Linked DNA regions of Homo sapiens: all the other regions are linked to region 1. The links come from fine-mapping of genetic effects on gene expression. A gene starts in region 1. Each other region holds a variant in brackets. All regions are shown on one strand. Distances are between the middles of the regions.

What was found. PIP is the estimated chance that this variant, and not a neighbour inherited with it, causes the effect.
Region 2: its variant is the best candidate, but not a certain one, in a credible set for the expression of EVC in esophagus muscle (GTEx, PIP 0.55).
Region 3: its variant is the best candidate, but not a certain one, in a credible set for the expression of EVC in fibroblasts (GTEx, PIP 0.71).

What each region holds. Positions count from the first base shown.
Region 1 is chr4:5,708,606-5,713,694 of GRCh38, forward strand. EVC (EvC ciliary complex subunit 1) reads left to right here and starts at 2,596. Exons shown (of 21, transcript NM_153717.3): 1 at 2,596-2,949. The coding sequence starts at 2,776. It also overlaps a transcript of EVC2 not described here. RefSeq lists enhancers at 1-513, 3,275-3,344, 3,930-4,239 and silencers at 1-43, 2,555-2,604, 2,655-2,804.
Region 2 is chr4:5,743,052-5,748,051 of GRCh38, forward strand. EVC (EvC ciliary complex subunit 1) reads left to right here. Exons shown (of 21, transcript NM_153717.3): 7 at 2,153-2,290. Among named protein-coding and RNA genes, the nearest start is that of EVC, 34 kb to the left of the region's middle. The variant A/G (reference allele first, on the strand shown) is at 2,300.
Region 3 is chr4:5,754,808-5,759,807 of GRCh38, forward strand. It overlaps EVC (EvC ciliary complex subunit 1), which reads left to right. Exons shown (of 21, transcript NM_153717.3): 11 at 1,457-1,555. Among named protein-coding and RNA genes, the nearest start is that of EVC, 46 kb to the left of the region's middle. RefSeq lists enhancers at 3,595-4,794, 4,463-4,512. The variant T/C (reference allele first, on the strand shown) is at 2,335.

The DNA of each region.
Region 1 (5,089 bases):
AGTGCGAGCCGCCGCCGAAAGTTTTCTGGAACAAACACCCGCATCTGGGGCTTGGCGGGCCAGGAGGTGCCGGACGGGCGTGGGAGGGGGAGAGCGAGTTGGCGCGGCCCAGGCGCCCGGCGGCCAGGCCTGGGTTTGCTTGCGCCCAAACCGAATCAGAGCGGGTCACTCCCCTGCTCCCCGAGGTTACCAGGACCCCAAGGGCCCCTCCGCTACCGCCTACCTGGGTCTGTAAGCCTCAGCTCAGACGCACTTCCCCTGGGAACGGTTTCCTGACACACGGATGTGAATCCAGAGTTTCCCCATCCCCGCTTAGAAAACGGAGAAGCATTTGGAGCGCGGGGCCGGGAGTCCTGGAGCACCCAGAAGGTTCAGGAAAGCTCGGGGAGGAGGGGGTGGCCGCAGAGAAGGAAAAGGACCCTCACTTCCGGTTGCGTTCAGTGCAGACCAGCTGAGCACCCACTGCCCGAGCCTGCTGTGGGTCAGCCCTGGGCCGGCCCGGGTGCCCCTCGCATTCCCAGTGGGAAACAGGCCAGCCGCTGGGCCACCTCTCTGGGGACCTAGAAAGAGGGGAGCTGGTGTCTGAAGTCGCAGCCCTAAGCAAGCTCTCCCTGAACTCTCCGAGGGGACAGGGATTTGCTTTGCCAAGGGACGCAGGAGGAGGAGGAGGAGAAAGACACAAAAAGGGGGACTGGTGGAGCCTTTTGTGTGCTTCCTCATCCCTGCCTAGGTCCTGGGTGACAGCTGACACCTGTTGACGGGGGAGGGCTCCACTCCCGCCAGCCTTCCTGCGGGGCAGGCTGTTAGGCTGTCTATAAAGTCTCAGGCCAGCGAGCCTGGCCCCTGGCAGCCTCTCTCCCCATAACCCAGACCATCCAAGGACAGGCCTTTCCTGACCTAACATGGACAAGGCCATGGGGTTCGAGAAGCTGAGAATTTATAAGCCAAGTTCCCCACACCAGGGGGTACGTGGCAGCTGTCAGGCATGTGACAAGACCACAGGCTAAATGCCAAGCATGTTGCTGGACCGTTGGAGTTGTTTGACAGTCAGTCATTTAAAGGTTAATTTAATAGTCAACAACTTTATGATAAAGTAAAAAGCAAATAACCCTACATTTAAAAAATCTCCTTAGTATTTTTTATGGAGTCAGGGTCTCACTATGTTGCCAAGACTGGTCTTAAACTCCTGGGCTCAGACAATCCTCCACTTGAGCCTCCCAAAGTGCTGGGATTACAGGCGTGAGCAACCACACCTGGCCCAAACACCACATTTTAAAAACTAAAGCCTAAGCATTCATGGAAATGTAAAACAAGAGCGTCAAGTTATTGCCCCCATACATGTCCCCAGGAACCTTGGAGATGCTTCTAAGGTAATATATAAGAAGCTCCACATAGCAGAGAGTTTGCCCTGAAGCCAGACACAGGTGTAAATGAGACAAGAATTCTGCCCCACTCCTTAATTGCAAATGAGTCACCTCTCCTCTCCAGCTGTCAGTTTCTTCATTTATTAAAAAAAGATGAAGAATTTGGATAACAGTTCCCATCTTGCCATGAGGAAATGATGAAACAAACTAGAAACAAGCTGGACATCTAGGCTGAAAGGACAAAGCCCTCCTCTGCTGAAGCAGATCCCCATGGTGTCCCCTAGCCCGGCCCACACAGGGAATTAAGCTCCACAGGGTAGGTGTGTGTGTGTGTGTGCCCCTGAGTGCAAGTGTGCAGTCGTGCATGTGCATGTGTGCTTTACCCAGGCACCCAGGACAAAAGCAAACATCTAGTAGCTACCCCATAAATGTTTGTTTAAAGCAAACACAGTGATGAACTCCTTTAATTTTTTATCACTCTAAACAACTGTGAGATACTCACTAGCCTGGACACTGCCTGGTTTGTGGCTGGCCTATCCCCCAGCCTGCAACACACACACAACAGATTCTCTCCAAGTGCTGAGTAAATGAAGGATGGTGCAGTGTCCTGGTCCTAGTGGGGAGCGGGTGTAAGGGTCTCTTTATCCATTGTCTCAGTGGGGAGTGGGTGTAAGGGTCTCTCTACCCTTGGTCCTAGTGGGGACTAGGTGTAAGGGTCTCTCTACCCATCGTCTCAGTGGGGTCTGGGTGTAAGGATCCCTTTACCCATCCTCCTAGTGGAGACTGAGTGTAACGGTGTCTCCACCCATTGTCTCGACCTTCCCTGGGACAAAATAAGATTAAAACAGGAGTCTTCGCGTGAGCAAGTTCAGAGGCGTGGAGGGCGGTGTGTTCCCGGGAAGGTTGATGGGTAGAGGTTAGGGGCAAGGGCAGGGGGTTGGAATTGCATTGATCCCAGCGTCTTCATCAGGAGGATGGGCGGAGCACCCACCGCAGAGGGTTATTGAGAAAGTTAATGAGATCATTAAGCTAAATGCGTAGCATATTCTAAGCCTCAAAAAACTTAAAGGAGCCTTCTAAGCCTCAGTAAAGTTAAAGGGGTGGAAACCGGGCCCCCCTCCGGAAGGGTCCGGGGCTGGGAGGCGCGTCTGTCTCTGGGCATGCTCAGTGCAGGGGCAGGGCTGGGGCGGGGGTGGCTGAAAGTTTTGAGCGGTGATCCAGGCTCCTCCCTCCGGCTCGGCGAAGCAGGGAAGGGGAGAGAAGCAGGAGTCGGGAGACTGCACAGGCCAGAAAGTCTGCGGAGCGGGCCGCGCCCCTGGCCCGCCCGGGCTCCAAGTCCCGCGTCGCCGCCCTGGCGGGGACGGTGCAGCAGGCGGCGGGATGCGGCGGGGCGGCAGCCTGAGCGCCCCGGATGGCCCGCGGCGGGGCGGCCTGCAAGAGCGACGCGCGGCTGCTGCTGGGGCGGGACGCGCTGCGGCCGGCGCCCGCCCTGCTGGCCCCCGCCGTGCTGCTGGGCGCCGCGCTCGGCCTCGGCCTCGGCCTTTGGCTTGGCTGCCGCGCGGGCCGCCAGCGCACGCGACACCAGGTGGGTCGGCCGAGCAGACAGCGGCGGGGCGGGGAGCGCGGGGCGCGTGGCTTCTGGGTCCTGCGGGCCCGGAGCCCCGGCTCTGCGACTCCTTGAGCCTGGTTGGGAACTTCGCACGCAACCGCTTAGGCGTCGGGTTCCCCTTCTGCTCCAGGAGGGAGGTGGCGGCGTGACTAAAGGGCATTGGCCTGGGGTCCCCTGCGGTGCCTGTTACATCCCACTCCGTTGGGTGATCCTTGACAGCAGCCCAACTGCGCCACGCCTCGGTCTCCTCATCTGCAGCACCAAGGGTTTGGACAGGACGCTGGCCCTGCTCGCCATGGTGGACAGAAGGACGGCTGGGGCTCCCACGCCTGAATGCCTATTCCTGCTTCTGCCTCTTCCATCCTTGCGGTGTGGGTTACGTCGCCTGGCCTGAGTCCCAGCTGCCACATTGGCATTCATTTTTTCATTCACCCCACAGTAAAAGTTTTCAGGCACCTTCTACAGCCAGTCACTGGCCTAGGGACGACATTCATGAGCGGGAGAGACCCTGCCTTGAGGCTGTGAACCTCAAGGAGAAGGACGAATTGCAAGTTTGCAAGTAAACTATCGGTTATGACACCGCATGGGGAGTCTGCGATGGGACGCTGGCAATGCTAGCGTTTATTAAGTGCTGTGTACCAGGCACTGAACTAGACCCTCTCCCTAAATGATCTCAATGAATCTCCACAACAGTTTGTCTCTGCTTTGCAGATGAGGAAACTGAGGCACAGAGAGGTTAAGCAACTTACTAAAGTGACAGAAGTGTCTAACCCCAAAGCCACTGTGTTCTTCATGGATGAGGGTCGGGGTGGCTGCCTGAAGGAGACCAGTGGATGCTTCCTATGCAAGTGGCCCTCATGGAATTGGCTGTGCATGGCAACACCTGGCATATAGCAGGCATTCCATGAATAGTGGTATGGCCACTATTTTAGGTCCTTGCAACTTCTGCCTCTTTGGGGTGGGAGGAGAGTAAAGTCTGCGCGATCAGAAACAAGATGGCGTGGTCTTGCTACCCCCATTTCTGGCCCGTGGGAAGATGAGACAGATCTTGTGCGGTTTCCATGTAGGCACAGGCTCTTTCAGAATATAGGGGAATTTGGTGACTCATGGGGAGCATTACACCGCAAAGAGCTGATGAGGGCTGAAACTGAGATAATGCAAGATGCTCGTAGGTGAGTTGGGGGTTGTCAGATCCTGCTGGTGATTAAGAGACACTAAGAGATGCTGGCTTGTTGCATGGAGAGAGAAAGGGAAGTAACACACAGAGACTTGGCTGGGTGTCCTGTGCAATGTTTATAGACATCTGGTTCTTTATCCTCCAGCCCATGAGGTGGAGGAACTGCCATTATCCCCACTTTACAGTGAGGCAGGGGATGCTCTGCAAGGGTGTTTGTCCAGGGTGCCACGATGAGTAAACAGTGGGACTGAATTTCAACCCTAGTTGGTTTGAACCCCAAAGCTAGAGCCTTAAGTATCTGCTACCTGGTGAGGTGGTGGTTAGTATCCCATTTGCTAGCTGAGTCAGCTGAGGCTTACCGGGATTAACCAAGCCATCTGGGTTTGCACAGCTAGTCAGTTGAGGGTGATGGTGGCTCAGACCAGGGTGGCAGCCATGGAGGGGTCTGTGGCTCAAAGTAGGACTAATAGGATTTTGTTACAGTTTGATGTGATCCTTGCGACAACCTTCTTTCTAATGAGATTCTTTTCCTCCTGTCTCCTCCCTCTAGTTTTTATTTATAAAATGTATGTCAGACAATATGATTCTCCTGATTAAACACCTCCAGTGACTCCTGGCTGCCTGCAAAAGATAATGCCCAGGCTGGGCACTGTGGCTCATGCCTGTCACCCCAGCACTTTGGGAGGCCAAGGCGAGCTGTTCAACTGAGGTCAGGAGTTCGAGACCAGCCTGGCCAATATGGTGAAACCCTGCCTCTACTAAAAATACAAAAATTAGCTGGCATAGTGGCAGGAGCCTGTAATCCCAGCTACTCAGGAGGCTGAGGCAGGAGAATCGCTGGAACCTGGGAGGCGGAGGTTGCAGTGAGCCAAGATCGCACCATTGCACTCCAGCCTGGGCGATAGAGCAAGGCTCCGTCTCAAAAAAAAAAAAAAAAAA
Region 2 (5,000 bases), 34 kb after region 1:
ACTTTCTAAAAAGGGGACAGTAACTTCTGGGTTGTTGCCATGGAAAAGGGTGGTAACTTTTGGGTTGTTGACATGGCATTTGTAATCTGTGGTTGTGCTGGTGGGAGTGTCTTATGCTAATGAGCAATGAGGGCAGCAAGGGATCACTTTCATCACCATCCACTGGTTCCTGCCGGTTTCTTCACTTTATCCTGTCTGGACCAGATCCCATTTTGATCAGCAGGGTTGTGATCAGAAAACAAGTCCTGCCAGTCTCCTACCTCACCTTATCCTCACCATCATTGTCATCATTATTCTCGTTACTACTATCACCAGCCTCTTATTCATCATCCCCTGCCATCATTTTCATTATCATCATCATTGTTATTGTCATCATTTTCATTACTGCCATCGTCATCGCATCATTGTTGTGATAGTCTTCATCAGCACCACCATCATCACCATCTTCATCAGCACCACCATCACCACCTTTATCATCTTTCCTGCTACCTCTACCTTCACCTTCATTAGAGTCCTCATTGTCATCGTCATCGTCCTTGTTCCTACCACTGTGAGATCTGGGGGTTTGGGAAGGAATGTTTCTTCTTTACTCCACTGGATTCCATGAGGAAGGATGACTCACTGCATCCCAGGAAGGAGGAAGGACATCATCATCTTCACTGTCATCCTCAGTATCACCACCATGGTCATGGTCCTCAGGCAGTGCACGTCGTGCTTGACATACATTATTTCATTTAATAGTTATGACAGCCCTGTGAGTGGCCATTGTTATTTTTGTTTTACAGCTGAAGAAACTGAGACTCCATAAGTTCAAATGACTTTCCAATGGCAAAAATGATAATGATGATGATGACATTTATAATGGTATTAGTAATAATGAAACAATACTGTCTGTTATAATAGAAAGAATAAGAGCCTTGGAGTCTGCAGACCTCAGATCAAATTCCATCTCTACGAGTTAAACAAGGCTGTCTGAACTTAAGCAAGCATGTTAATTATAATAGTGGCTACTATTTGTTGAGATAGGCTAGCCAAGTGATTTAAATGCATAATTTCATTTAACACTTGGAATGACCTTAAAACTTTCAGAAGAGGACAAGGAGTGCCCAGAATTTGGAAGAGTAAGGACAAGCCTGGCACTGCCCCTTCCTGCCTGGGCATCTTTGGACAAACTATCTTACCTTCCATAAACCAGCTTTCTCACCTGGAAATGGGTCATAATTTCTCTTTCACAGAGATGCCGTGAGGATTAGAAATCACATATGGCCTCAGCTTGGGTCTTCAATAGTAGTTTATATCAATGTTATTTTTCCTAGTGAACCTTGACCCATGCCACACTGTTGGCTATGTGACAATGAATATAGAGAAAATAGAACTGCCTCCCACACACTATCTTGGGGTTTGTGAGTCTATACTTAGGACTCACCTTTTCCTTCCTGAGTTCAGAATCATTTGAGAGAGTCAGGAGGACAGATATAGAAATGTAGCTTTGTTACTGATTAGAGGCCAGCTTGGACGATGTGGCTTACATGCACAGCTATCATGGCTTCCTAATACTGAATCCCAGAATTCACTCAATTGCCTAGCTAGTCACGGGCAATGCTGGGCCACCTCAGGCTTCCCCACACAGAAACAGGGCCTTGGCTACCCAGCTCACTCTAGGCTGATATCACACCAGAGCAATGGCCTCCCCTGATTGGCCCATCACAAACAGGAAGAGGCTGGGCAAGTTTCTGGCCTTTAAACCAACCAATCAAATACACACCACTTCCTGCCCTGGGGTGTTGTTCTTTCCCAGGAAAACCAGAAGAGGAGCAAAGAAACATTCCTTCCCAACCCACTGGATGTCATGATATTTTCCAGGACTTCATAATGATTGAAAGATACTATTTTATTGATTTTTAAAGTATGGTCTAGTTTTTTTTTTTTTTTTGAGGGAGGATATAGAGGAAAATAATCCATTATTCTTGAGGCTCTATGTTTAATGAGAAAATGGGTCAAACCTCATGTACAACAACCCCCAGAGCATTTAACTATTGTTTAAAAATATTTTGTGAAATTTGAAAAATAAAAGCATTTATTTTTCTAGAATTTAAGACACGCTAAACTTTTTCTTTGTTTATTTGCTTTCTTTTTTCTTCTTCTTCTTCAGGATTTGGAGGAACTAGAAAAGGGACTTCAGGTCAAACTGTCAAACACAGAAATGTCGGGGGCTGGTGACTCTGAGTACATCACCCTGGCTGATGTGGAAAAGAAGGAGAGAGAATACTCTGAACAGCTAATCGATAATGTGCGTGCC[A/G]GACTTTCTTTCCTGTACACAAATTTTGGTTCCTAAAACAGTTAAATTGGCTACATTAGAGAGATGATAGTTAGAAGTGTGCCTAATACTTGAATTCCCCTATCGCATTCTGCCCTAGAGGCAGGATCCAGTTTCTGATGCTAAGTGATAGGGAAGAAGTAATTAAGCAGCAAAGATTCACAAAGGGAGGTTTATTTTTTATATCATGAATTATCCTCATTTAAATTTCAGATTGGTCTTTTTATCATTCAAAGCAAAGGTTGCTATAACCCTTGATGTCATCACTGCCCTTTGGAATAGAGTAGAAGAAAGCTGCTAGGCATCACTCGTGAAAGCAAGTTTTAAATTCCAGACAGAATGGCTTCTCTGAAACATCGTTTTTCTTTTCTTTTGGGTTCCACCACCCCCTGTTCATATATTATGTATTAAACAAACATGTCCTTGGCACTTGCTCTTCACCAGGGATTGTGCTGGGCACTGGGGACTCAAAAATCATTTAGACATGGCCCTGCCTGAGAGAGGCCAGGAGAGACAAACAGGTGAACAGATGAGGGCTTCACAGAGTGACACATCTTGTGATAGAAGGAAGCACAGGAGAAGGCCCGAGGCAGGCACAGTGGAGGGAAGAGTTCATTTTACCCCAGGCTTAGGAAAGCCTCCGTAGAAGAAGGGACCATGGAGAGGCTGGCCGGGAGAAGTGTGGGTGCTGGCCAGTGGTGGGGCAGAGATGGGAGCTAAAGAGGGCTGAGAGCAAGTCGAGGTAAGGTAAAGCCAGAGGGATCTGGCCAGAGGGCTTGTTTGTGTCTTAAGCCAGCGAGATGGGAGTGTCTATTGCCAGCGAGGTGGGAGTCACTGAAGCTTTGAAGCAGGGGGTGGCTGGCTTCAGCTTCTGCTTTAGAAGGGCTGCCCAGGCACTGAGTGGAGGGTGGTGAAGAGCTACTGGGCTAATCCAGCAGGAACTTTATTAAGGCAACTGCAGTAGGATGGAGAGGTGAGGAAACGTGTGAGAGAAGCTGTGGTGGTCTACCATGGGGCGGCAGGTGGGGAGGAGGAGGGGGTCCAGGGTCAGTGCTGCTGAAATAAGCGCCCCAGAGCAAGATGCTCATGGGAGGGAGGGAGCCAATGCTCCTGTCCTCTGAATAGGTCCAATATTGAGAGGAGAGGCTTGGAGATGGAGGGTCTCCATGAGAGCCCAGGTTAGAGGACTTTGAGGGCCAGAATGTTCTTAGAACTGTGGGCCAGGATGCTAAGGAAGAGGGCCAGCCTGGATTCCGGTGGTCCACAGAACCCCCAACGCTGTGTGCAGTATCTTGTCCATGTCTGCCTTTCTCAGGGACAGGGTTCAGAATTTTCATAAGATTCTCCAAAGTATTGGTGACCTCCAAAAATGGTGACCTCTGGCCTAGAAATGGTGTGTAAAATGGGAAGAGAAAAGAGCTTTGGTGCCAAATCCTGGATCCTGCCCATATTTAAGGAGGAGCGGATGAGAAGAATTGGGACAAGAAAGCAGAGGAGGAATTGGATGGGCTTTGCAGAAGCAGGAGAAAATCATGTCATGGACGCCAAGAGAATCAGGAGTTTGTAAGCAGAGCGGGCTGTGTAGAGTTGGCAGGTGACAGTCTGCAGTCACGTGGCAGGTGGAAGGCAGGTCATCTGATGGCTCCAAGGGGAAGAGCAGGGTGAGAGCCTGAGGGTGTCAGGCAGGTTTGAGGTCCCTCCTGGCAGGGATGAGAGGAGGAGCAGCATGTATGGGGTTTACTGGGAGGCAATGGGGCCCTGAGATGGGGAGCCGCATTGATGAGGGGTGTTCATCTGGGTGCAGGCTTCCTCCTGGCAGAGCCAGACCGACACCGCAGTTGAGGCTGACAGAGTTTCATGATCTTGAGTCACAGCAACAAAATCATGGGTTTCTGGTGACACTAACCCCTGCCCCCTCCCATGCCCAGTCCAGCCAGAAGTGTCCATTTCAGCCTCTCAGAGGCTGAGCCAAGATGGAGGCAACCTCAGCCGTGGAGTTAAATGGACCTGAACCAAATCCGGGCTTTCACTGGGTCCATGACCTCTGACAAGTGACCTAACTCCCCCGAGCCTGTTCCTACACCTCTAGATACATACTTTATCATGATATCAAATGTGTGAAGCACAGAGCCTGGCGAACAGCCTGTGGGCCATGAGGGAAAGTTGCTCCGATTCCTAGTGTCATTGTCCTTAGAGCTCTGACTGGCTGTGATGACTCAATTAAACCTCCTGCATTCTAAGCCACTTGGGAATTCCCAGCTCTGCTCCTGATAAAATGAGGGGGAGGGAAGATTTTAAAGCAAAATGTTTTCATGGTCAGCATCCTCTCTGCCATATTAAGCTTTTGTACTTTTAGGACAATAACTAATATTTAAACATCTGTTTATGCTTTTACTTCCAGGAAGTATTTAATCCCATTTAAAATTGCCAAAGCTTCCATGAGCACATTGTCACATTTCATCGGCCCCTAGGTAGCTGTAATGACCTGTGCAAGAGTCTGTAGGCTGGACAAGCTACTGCTTTCTTTCCTTAGCAGCAGTGCTCTCGTGTCTGCTGAAACACCATTGCAAAACTGACTGACACTGGAACCAGACAATGGAACCAGAAAGAACTTCACTGTAGAACGTGATTGTTGCCAAGATAAACTCACTGAAACTGTAGAATTGTTTAGAATCTTTGTTTG
Region 3 (5,000 bases), 46 kb after region 1:
TCAGTGAGACCAAGGAAGGGGCAGCCCCAGCCTCACTGTTTGCCTGGGTCCGCCTGCCCTCCGTCAACACTTGGTACAGCACATCTCAGTTCTGCCAAGGGGTGGGTGGCACCATGTCTGGGTCCAGGCTCAGCCCAGAATAGAGGCCCAGGGGCTCTCCCTGGGGGCCAAGCTGGTGGTGGTGGCACCACTGCAGTGAGAAGCCAATGGAGGGGTCCCCCGAGAACAGAGGACAGGCCTCTAGGTCCCTGGTCCAGCTGCCTCCCTCACCCAGGGGGCCTCTTCCAGGCCCATACTTGGAGCTTCTGCATTTGCCACAAAGGGGTAGGGTAGGTTTTTCTATCTTTGAGACCCATTTGAAATAAGAGGAAGATAAGGCTATTCAGCTCCTCGTTATTTGGATATTTCTGGGCCCCTGTCCTTGATGTCACAGAGCCCAGTGTGAGTCCAGAGTGTGGAGACAGTGCCTGGGTGACCTTGGTGTCCCAGGGCCTCGGTACAGTCCTCGGAACGCCTCAGCGCTGGCGTTCAGGACACGTGGGACGCAGGCAGGGAAGGGTGAATGAGCGCATGCGTGCCTGAATGAACCAGGACATGGACAAATGGGCAAACGAGCGAATGAAGGAGGATGGAATGGGTGGGAGAATGAACGAACGACACCAGGCTCCCAGTACACACTCAGCACCCACCTTTTTCCAGTCCCGCCCTTCTCTCTCATCTCACCTCCTGCCCGTAGCATCACCAAAGATCTTAGGGGGTTTACCTCCTGGTCTCTGCTGCTGCTCGCTGAGCCTGGCTCCCCATCTTCCCTCCAAGGAGTCCTTCCTTGTCCTTAGAGACTCCATTGAAACATCTCCCCAACAGGGAATTTTCTCCTGCAACCCTTCCCTGAGAAGGGTCTGTTCCTCTGTCCTTCTGCCCCACCTCGCCCCTCGCTGATGCTCTGTTTAGGGCTGGCTGGGTCTCCCCCTGCTGATGCCCGGGTTAGCCCAGTCTCCTGCTGCTCTGCTGGGGTCCTCAGGGAAGGGCCTCCACCCCGTGGTCACAGTGGGGCCTGGCTGGTTGCTGACTGCACTGACCTCCAATCGCCAGTCTGTGTCACCCCTGCTGGGTTCCCATCAGTGGGTCTTCCATGGCCTGGGTGGTCAGAAAGTGATGTCTGGGTGGCTGCAGCCAGGACAGAGGAGTGACAGAAGTGGTCCAGTGGCCCCTCCTCATCCTGGCTTTAACAAAAGCGTGGTGGTTTGTGGTGTTTCCTGGAAATCGGATTTGCTGACCCTGGCATCAGCTGTGAAAGCCATGTGACAGCCCCATGCCTCAGTTTCCTTGTGTGTAATACAGGTGCCAACATCCTTCTTTCTAACCTGAGATGCAGGGGATGGTTGGAGAACCTTCTGGAAAAAAAAAAAAAAACCCTGCATGTTTCTACCAGACTCAGCTCTTGTTTTCCTCACAGGCTTTTCATGAGGTCCTGGAGAGGCAGAGGCTGATGCAGTGTGACCTGGAGGAAGAGGAGAATGTCAGAGCCACCGAGGCTGTGGTTGCACTCTGCCAGGTACATGGCCTCTGTGGGGACCAGCAGAGAAGCCCCAGGGTCTGTGTGTGTGCGAGAACCTCACATCCTCCTGGCTGGGGACCCCAGAGGTGGTTCAGGTCCAACCCCGCACTCATTGGCCGGTGATCCACGCAGGCTGTGTCCCCTCCATGCGATCCTCCTTGCCCACATCAGAAACCGAGGCAGTTGGCCTTGGTCCTCTCTGAGGCACCGTCCATTTTTGGGGTGCTGAGGATTCTTATCTCCACACATCCCTGTCAGCAAAGCTCTTTGGAAATCCGTTCTCCCCAGGTGAGAAATAGGCCCAGGGTTTCTGGGTGTCATCAGTGTAAAGTGGTGATGAAGAAGGGGTTCTGGGCTGAAATGGGGACGTCAGAGATCACATGCCACACCACCTCTTTCCCCTGTGCAACCGTGTGCAGGTCTGGGGTGGGGAGGTGAAGCTGGCCATGCTTGCCCTGCAGGGTGACTTTCAGAGAGCAGGAGAGGGCACCTGAGCCCTCTTTAGGGGCAGGAGTCACAGGATGCCATGCTGAGCCAGACAGAGCCCCTGCCTCAGGCAGCATCCTCAGTTGTTGGAAAGACAGGAGTGTGGACACCTGGCTATGAAGGAATCAACCAGTGGGTGTTGGGCAGCACTGGGAGGAGGAGAGGGCCTGGGTCTGTGTCCTGGCTCCCCGCTTCCTCACTGCGTGACCACAGGAGCATCACTTGGCCTCTAGCCCTCAGTTTCCCCATCTGTGAAATGGGGACAGTCATAATTCTTCTTCATGGTGTGC[T/C]AGGAGGACTGTGTTTGGGGACCCGAGACAGCAGCTGGCACTCGGAACACCCCAGGGCACGTTGTCTCCAGTGACAGCTTCCCTGCTTCTGAGTGCAGAGGAGAGGCAAGGGGCTCCTGGGTGAAGGTGACGTCAAGGACAGCAGCCTGTAGGAGGCATTGCTGAGCCAAGCATTGGATGAGACCAGGCCCAAGTGGACAAGGAGTCAGCGGGCATCCCCATCAGGGAGAAGCTCATGCAGTGGTGGGAAGTGCAACTCCTCACCCGGATGGGAGCTGCACTGGGGTCAGTCATGTCTCTGTTAACCTGCTAGGGCTGCCGTGGTGAATACCACTGACTGGTGGGTTAAACAACAGAAAAGCGTTCTCTCAAGGTTCTGGAGGCTGAAGCCCGAGATCACGGTGCCAACAGGATTGACTTCTGGTGAGGCCTCTCTTCCGGGCTTGCAGACAGCTGCCTTCCCGTTGCCTCCTCACACGGTTATTTCTCTGTGCTTGGAAGACTGAAGGGCAGGGGAGAGAATGAAAGAGAGGGCTCTGGTCTCTCCCTTTTCTTATAAGGACACCAGTTCTATGGGATTAGGGCCCCACCCTGATGACCTCATCTAACCTTAATTACCTCCTTAAAGGCCCTGTCTCCAAATACAGCCACATGGGATATTGGAGGTTAGAGCTTCAACATAAGAATTTGATTACTTAATTACCTCCAAATACAGTCACATGGGATATTGGAGGTTAGGGCTTCAACCTAAGAATTTTGGAGGGAGACACAATTTAGTCCAAACAGTGTCCTTCAAAACGTCATGTCCATCTGGAACCTCGGAATGTGGCCACACTTGGAAATAAGGGCTTTGCAGATGTAATTGGTTAGATCGCACAGTTGGTTAGGTCCTACTGGATTCGGGTGGGCCCTAATTCTAATGGCTGGTGTCCTTATAAGAAGGCCATGAGAAGACATAGAGACACAGGGAAGGAGGCTGTTTGAAGACAGAAGGAGGGACTGGAGTGATGCAGCCACAAGCCGAGGAACACCTGCAGCCACCAAAAGCCAGAAGAGCCCAGGAAGGGCCCCTCCCAGAGCCTTTGGAGGGGGCGAGGCTCTGCCAACACCTTGGTTTCATACTAATGCCCTCCGGAACGGTGAGAGAATAAACTTCGTTGTCTTAATGCACCCAGTTTGCGGCGCTTTGTCATGGCAGCCACAGGAAACTAAACGGAAGGCGATCTTTGTTCAGGGCTAGCTCCTATCTTAAGTGCCTCTTGAGTATTTGATTATTTAATTCTCATGAGATTCATGAGGAAGACACTGCATTTTCCTTCCTTCCCAGATGAGGAGTGAAGAAGTGTTTTCTCCAGAAATGGGTAGGATGGGGCTCAATTTGTCAAAGCCCTGGGGCCCACAGACAGGAAAGGAACAACTTTGTCCCCAGAGGAGTCAAGACTCACATCCCTGGCTGGGCATGGGGAAACCAAGTTCTAATCTTCCTCTGAGTGCTAACATGCTGTGTGACCTTGGCTGGTTACATAACCTGTCTGTGCTGGCCCATGTATCTTGCCCAGGTTTTACACAGCTAGCAAGCGGGGAAGGTGAGATTTAAAATAAAGGCTTTCTAATGTTAGTGCTGATGTGCTCACCCCAACCATGCTGCTCAGTGTTGACGGCTGTTGTGAAACCTCGCTTCTTGTGTTTTTAGTTTAAAAGTATGTAAACAAGAGACCACAGTAAAGGGGATGCAGCACAGAGCAATTTATTGCAAAGGAGAAAGAATGTTCTGAAAGTTAGGTGCAGAATAGACAGGATGCCCTGGGAGATGATTCAGAGCAGATGAGACAGCCTTGACTTACCGGGGAAACTCCCTTTCTGGGGAGTCTTATGTGATTATTCATAAGGGCGTGGGAAGAAGCATTATTAGTAAGCATGTTGTGGAGGGCGGTGGGGGCGGGTCCTCTGAGTGCCCAGGCACAGTAGCTGTACACACTTGTTCATACGTCACATGTCTCATTAGCATCTTAAGTCTCCGTCCAAAGGTGTGTTTTTTACTATTATAATGGCGCAGAGGGTCAGTCTGAGGACAGATAAAATCAAAGTGCACCTGCCGACTGCAGGAGACGTTGCCTACTGCAGATAACTGCTTGAAAGAGCCAGACTACAGTGTAAATGCTGAGGCTTACTGTGTTGATGGTTTGGTCGCCGCATCCCAAGGACATGGTCACTTCCTTGACTACCTATCCTGCCTTACGTGTGGGCTGTGGAGCATAATGGTGAAGCCCAGGCTCTGGAGCCAGACATCTGGGGTTCAAATTCCCAGCCGGGCCACTTATTTCCCCTGCCGGAGGTGAGCCCAGGTGGCCCAGAGGCTATGGGCGGCGGGGGTGGTTTCAGCAGCATTCTCCTCCTCACCCCCTATGGTAGCTTATTGGATTCTCACCCATCCTCTCTAAAGCAGTTCTCAAACCTTGCTGTGCATCAGAATGTCATCAAGATTAAGGAAATTGAGGTACAGGTTAGATCACTTGCTCACAATTACACAACCAGGCTGACAGCCTGAGTAAAACCCTATCAATGATTGCTGCAAAGGGTAAGCCAAGCAGTATATAAATGTAAACCCAGAACATCTGAGACGGGTCTCAGTTCATTTAGAAAGTTTATTTTGCCAAGGTTGAGGC